Regions from separate parts of the Homo sapiens genome. Here region 2 is linked to region 1. The links come from fine-mapping of genetic effects on gene expression. Tissue or cell type: whole blood. Region 1 holds a variant in brackets; the other region holds the start of a gene. All regions are shown on one strand. Distances are from middle to middle.

Region 1 (2,766 bases):
CTAAAAGTCTAGCAGGAATCGAGCCCCTCCGGCCTTAGGAGGGAGGGGTAACCAAAATACACTTCTGGGTTTGATCGTGCAAAGTGGAGAGGGGGCGAACAGGGAGGATCAAGGGTGAAGAAAGAAGACGCGGGGTTACCTGAACAGAGACATATTAATCCAAACAGGTAAAAGTGAGCGGGCTCCGCAATCATTGTCCTCGGGTGGATCCTGTATACAGTCTCATGCCAAGAGGAGGGAGTGGAAATAGGGTCCCCAAATGTATGAAGCCACACACCACACACAAAGGCTTAATATAAGCAACGTGGGTCAATTAGCCAAGAGTTTTCAGGGCAATTACTCGTCGACCTTTCCGGACGCTTGTCAGTATCTCAGAGACTTTTGCAGAGGAAGAATTCCAAGGTTTGTCTTCTCCGGCCCCAGGATTTCCGAGGAGGCTCAGACACTTTCAAGAACCATCCAAAGCGAACAACAAAGAGCCGAGGCAGAAGCGCAGTAGTGCCGTTTCCTGCCTCCACGGTCTTGCGGAGCCTCCCGGCGTGCGCCCCCACAATGTGCGGCCGAGCGCCGCTGCGAGGGCAGGCGCGGCGGCGGCGGCAAAGTTGGGGTGTGAGAGCTGCTGAGGGAGGGCCAAAAAGTGCTTCTCCGTCTCCCGGCGAGCCCAGTCAGCAGCGGGCCACCCGCGGCGGCGGCGATAGCAGCCAAAGTAGAAGCAGCAGCTCCGGAGGAAGGGCTCGGGGTGCCGGGAGTGTGACTGGGTGACTCCGCGCGCAGAGAGCGAGCGAGGGGGCGGTGCGGCGACAGCGGCTGCCTGGGCGGGCCCTTGTTCCCATCACTTGGGGGATGCGGAGGGTACTGGAGACAGCAGCAGGACCGCGGACACTCGCACGTCTTCTGGGCGCCCCCAGCCCCGCGCGGCGCCCAACATCGCCCTCGGCCCCTCGCCCTCTGGGGCGCTCGCAGGCACCCCTAAACTACGCAGAAGCCCAAACTTCCTGGGGGCAGCTGCCTGCACCCCTGGCTCGTGGAAGCTGTAAAGAGGCAGCTCCCGGCTCTCCCCGGGGTGGCAGAGAAGGGCAGAGAGGATGCTGCTGCGGGTGGGAGAGACGGCCGCCGCGGCTCACCCCAGCTCCTCCCGGATCAGCGGCGTCTGAAGTTTCTGCTCTCACGCTGCCTCCTCTCCAGCTCAATTGCTTGTGGGTTTCCCCCACAGTCCCCGCGGCTCCCAGTTCCCTCCCTCTCCTCCCCGGCCCGATAATACTTAAAGGGGCCGCGTGGTCCTTTCCATGCTTCACTCTATTCTCCAGGCGCTGGTCAGGCAAGTTCTGCTCCTCAATATTTCCATCCACAAGCCAGGGGTGCCCAACTGCGCCCTCAGGTGAGAATCCAATTGCTCGGAATCGGAAATCCAGGCGAATGAGAAACTGTCTTGTTTCTCTCGCCACCCCTAGCTCCCCTGCACCTTTCTCCAAATGGAACCTCCCAGCCAAAGACTTCAAAAATCCTCCTGGTCCAACTTAACCTCTTCCTTGCCGCTTCCAGGAATT[G/A]GAATAAACTCTCAACTCCACTCTCACTTCTCCCCATTCCCATTTAAAAAAAAAAAATCAATTTTGAGCAACATGGCTTTAGGACAGGAGGTAAACAGAGAACTATCCAGAACATATCAGTAGATGGGCAGTCTCTTACAACCATCCTTTTCTTTTAAGTTGCAGTTGTTGAAGGTCTTGTAGAAAAGATATCCAAATCATAAGGCACAGGGTTGGGCCTTGGGATCATTTCCTCATGTTTCAGTTGAAACTCTCTCTTTCAACTTCATACTCCACACATTAGAAAGCTAACAATGGGGATGTAATTTTAAGAGAGAGAGAAACAAATGCAAAAAACAATCTTGACAAGCCCAGAGTTTGCAGTTAGGAGAAGCTAGTCAGGCATAGGTTTGACACTCAGTATACCCGCCCTGAAATCCCAACCTGCCAGTTATAGCTCTGTGACCAGGTCTGTTTTCTCTTCTCTGTTTCTGTTCTCGAGATATTTTATTGCATTAACAAAAAATACACAAAGCAAAACAAACCTGACACGTCTGAAAGGCATTCATTCATTGAGTCAGTCATTTTTCTTTCTTTCTTTTAAATAGGACACAGTGGCCAGGCGCTGTGGCTCACACCTGTAATCTCAGCACTTTGGGAGGCCCAAGCGGGCGGATCATTTAAGGTCTGGAGTTCGAGACCAGCCTGACCAATATGGTGAAACCCCGTCTCTACTAAAAATTCAAAAATTAGCCGGGCGTGGTGGCGTTCGCCTGTAGCCCCAGCTGCTCGGGAGGCTAAGACAGAAGAATTGCTTGAGCCCAGGAGGCGGAGGTTGCAGTGAGCCGAGATAACTTGCCACTGCACTCCAGCCTGGGCGACAGAGCGAGACTCCGTCTTAAATAAATAAATAAATAAATAAAAAGACACACTATGTGAAATACCTAACATGCCGAATGCTGAATAAATGGCAGAATTAATATCTACAGAGTTGTGTACCATAACTTCAAAAAAAATTATTTGGTGTCTAGCAGTACATGTAAGAAGCTGCTTTCGGTGGTTGCCTCTGGAGGACAGAACTGCGCAATGGATAGGGCAGAGAAGGAGGATTTGCTCTTTTCTACATAGTGTTGTGCTTTTCCATGTCTTTTCAGGTGAGCACATTCATTACCTAATGGAAGATAAAAATTTAAAAGCAAATTGTACATTGATTTTGGTTGCTGCTGGTGCAACCAACGAC
Region 2 (2,766 bases), 750 kb after region 1:
TGGAACCGAAGGCTCATGGAAGCGGGGCTGGCAAGATGGGGCAGGGAGAAGGAGCAAGAAGGGGCCCCAGAAGGGCACGGCGTTTCATCAATAATGCAGAGGCTCCTGGACCTCCCTGCAATACGTTTTCCAGCTAAACGCCACCAACTGGAGCGCTTCCTGGTTCGTCCCACTCGTGTGGTTTTTGTGTGTGAAAGATGGGACGCACCTTTTTCATTCATCTGTCTTCTCTCATTCTTCCTCCTTCCCTCCCTCATTTCCTCCCTCAAAGTCCCCGCTGGCTTAGCTTTAAGCTCTCGTCTTCACATCAGCACCATGTTTTCAAGCAAAATCCTGCAGGTTGGAAATGCAAGTGTCAAAAGTCCCCACTGCCTACATACCGCCAAGAGTTTACCAAAATCCACCTAGTAACGCTTATTTTCAAAGCCCCCACGCGCATCCATTCCTGGAGAATGCTTTCAAAGTTTGGAAGCTCCCTGCAGCCTGCCCGTGTCTATGCCTCAGTCAGCTCACATCACGAACAACGGTGCGGTCAGCGGCACTGAGATTAGGCTGCAAAGTTGCCCGGCCCCAGCCCACTACACCGCTGATGCTCGCCGCATCCCTAGAGCAAATTCCGCTGTGTGCCCCCAAGAAGCCAAAAGCGGCACGAAACCTACTCCAACAAGGGTTAGCCCAGCCACACACACAACAAACAAATTCCAAAACTTCTTTGTTAAGCAGCCGCAGCCTACCTGGAACGGACACTCTGCACAACTGGCAAGGAAGAAACAAACATCGCATCCCTGCAGGAAAACTTGTTGAATCCCTCCCGATCGCAAGGCTGCAATTTCCGATTTAGCCTGAAGGTTTTTGATTCTACCCCAAAACACCCTGGCGCATCAGCCACAATTTCTGGATAAACTGCAGAGTCCTCTCGGCAACCATTCTGCACTCCAACAACCACTAGTGTAAAACCCAGCGTGTCCCCTTTTACAAATCAAAAGCCAGCTGTCACTTCCCTTGCAACCATTTCCGAGACTTACCCTTCCATAAGACTGTTTTCAGCAATCTAGAGGCTCCGTAGTGCAGACGCAGCCCTGCAACTTTGCTGTGCACTGAGACCTTTCCGAGTTTAAACCAAGCGAAAGGTGACAGACTTTTAAACCTAAGAGTGGGGAAATAGGGAGAGAGTGAAGTCGGGTTTCTTCTCTGTATCAGCACCCTGGAAAAATTCAATCCTTCTTCAGTAGAGAATTCTTTCAAACCCGTTATCTGTATTACTATTAATGCGCAGAGCAGAAGGCATTGCATACAAATAGGTCCAAGTGTGCGCTTCTATTGGTGGCTGCGGAGGCCCCTGGGTCCTACTGCTCCGGTCTAAACTACACAGCAACACTAGGCACGCAGCTTTGGAGACGCCGAGGGGAAAATGGATTTAATTGATTCGTTACCTCTGGTATTGTAATGCCTGCTGCGATGTTTAACCGAGGGGGGAGGAAAAAAAAAAAAAAAAACCCTTACATTTAACTCCTGTCATGTGATCTATCATTCCATAGCTGCTTTTAATTGTCTGTGTGGAGTGGCTTTGATCATACAAAGGATTTTAAAAGAACATTTTCGAAGGAAAATTCACACAGACACTTTTGGCAGGAAAACCCTCTTTTGCTCTCTATTATGCATTATTCTCATATAAATCCAGGAAATTTTATATAATCAAATACTTCTGCACTTCACGTAGGTACACACAACACCCAATTGTATTTACAATTCATAGCTACTACAAATAAAATACCTTACATGGGTAGTAGATAGTAGAAGCTAAAATATGAGTCTACCAATTATAAAACACGGGTTATATTAGTCAAATGCTACAGAAAAAATTCCATCAATGACAATGGCGTCAGCATCATTTTTACTTCGCAAAATTAGAAATTCAAAAATATTTTCCTTGTAAATATTGACATAAAGATATAAATCAACATAAAGGTATTATAATGTCACAGTATGTCAAGCATTTACTATTAATTGCTACATTATCTTTTTACAGTTTCTCTCTTAGCAAGTTCATTAGTAATGCAAATTGGCATAACAAGGAGATTTAAAGTGAGGCCGACCTGTGGTGACTAGCAATTTGAAATATTGTAATAGTGTGCAAAATCACTTTAGTTCATCATCGGTAAAGCCAGTTATTTTAAGAATTAGAATATTAAATGCTGAATCTTAATATATATTAATTTGAAGTCTTAAACATGCTGTTTTCTTTGACCTTTAATTTTGTGGAGGAAAAGAGAAATCCTTATTTAAACTAAAATGACATAGACTTTCCACAAAATCCTAGATACGATATTTACTGATATTATAATTTAGGAAGTAACATAATTTTATTGTCTTTGATGTAAATAATTGTGATAAATTCCAATTTAATTACAAAATTATTACATATATGTAATGTACAACTGAATGAACATTGTTGGAAAGGGCCACTCTGGATAAGGTTAACATCAACCAACCTATAAATTCACTACCTATGTGTAAACTAAATAAATGAAAACACAATGCAAAAATACAACAGACTCGAGATCTTATTCCAAATACATGTAAAGCATTTGAATTTATGTAGTGTGTGCTACAATCCCTCTTCATTTCCGTAACTCTTTCCCTTTACAGCCCCTTCCCTTCCCCCAATCAGTAACCCTTGACAACAGAAGTGTTAACTTCAAGTCCAGGTTGCCTTTGCTGCCTTCCAGACCTAACTTACAGATTGCATCCTTGTAGGAAACAGAG

Evidence for each region. PIP is the estimated chance that this variant, and not a neighbour inherited with it, causes the effect.
Region 2: ROBO1 starts here. The variant in region 1 is fine-mapped to the expression of ROBO1 in whole blood (TOPMed, PIP above 0.99).

The regions. Positions count from the first base shown.
Region 1 is chr3:79,018,268-79,021,033 of GRCh38, forward strand. The region is part of intron 3 of ROBO1 (roundabout guidance receptor 1); the gene reads right to left. Among named protein-coding and RNA genes, the nearest start is that of MIR3923, 490 kb to the right of the region's middle. The variant G/A (reference allele first, on the strand shown) is at 1,548.
Region 2 is chr3:79,766,727-79,769,492 of GRCh38, forward strand. ROBO1 (roundabout guidance receptor 1) reads right to left here and starts at 1,272. Exons shown (of 31, transcript NM_002941.4): 1 at 1,026-1,272.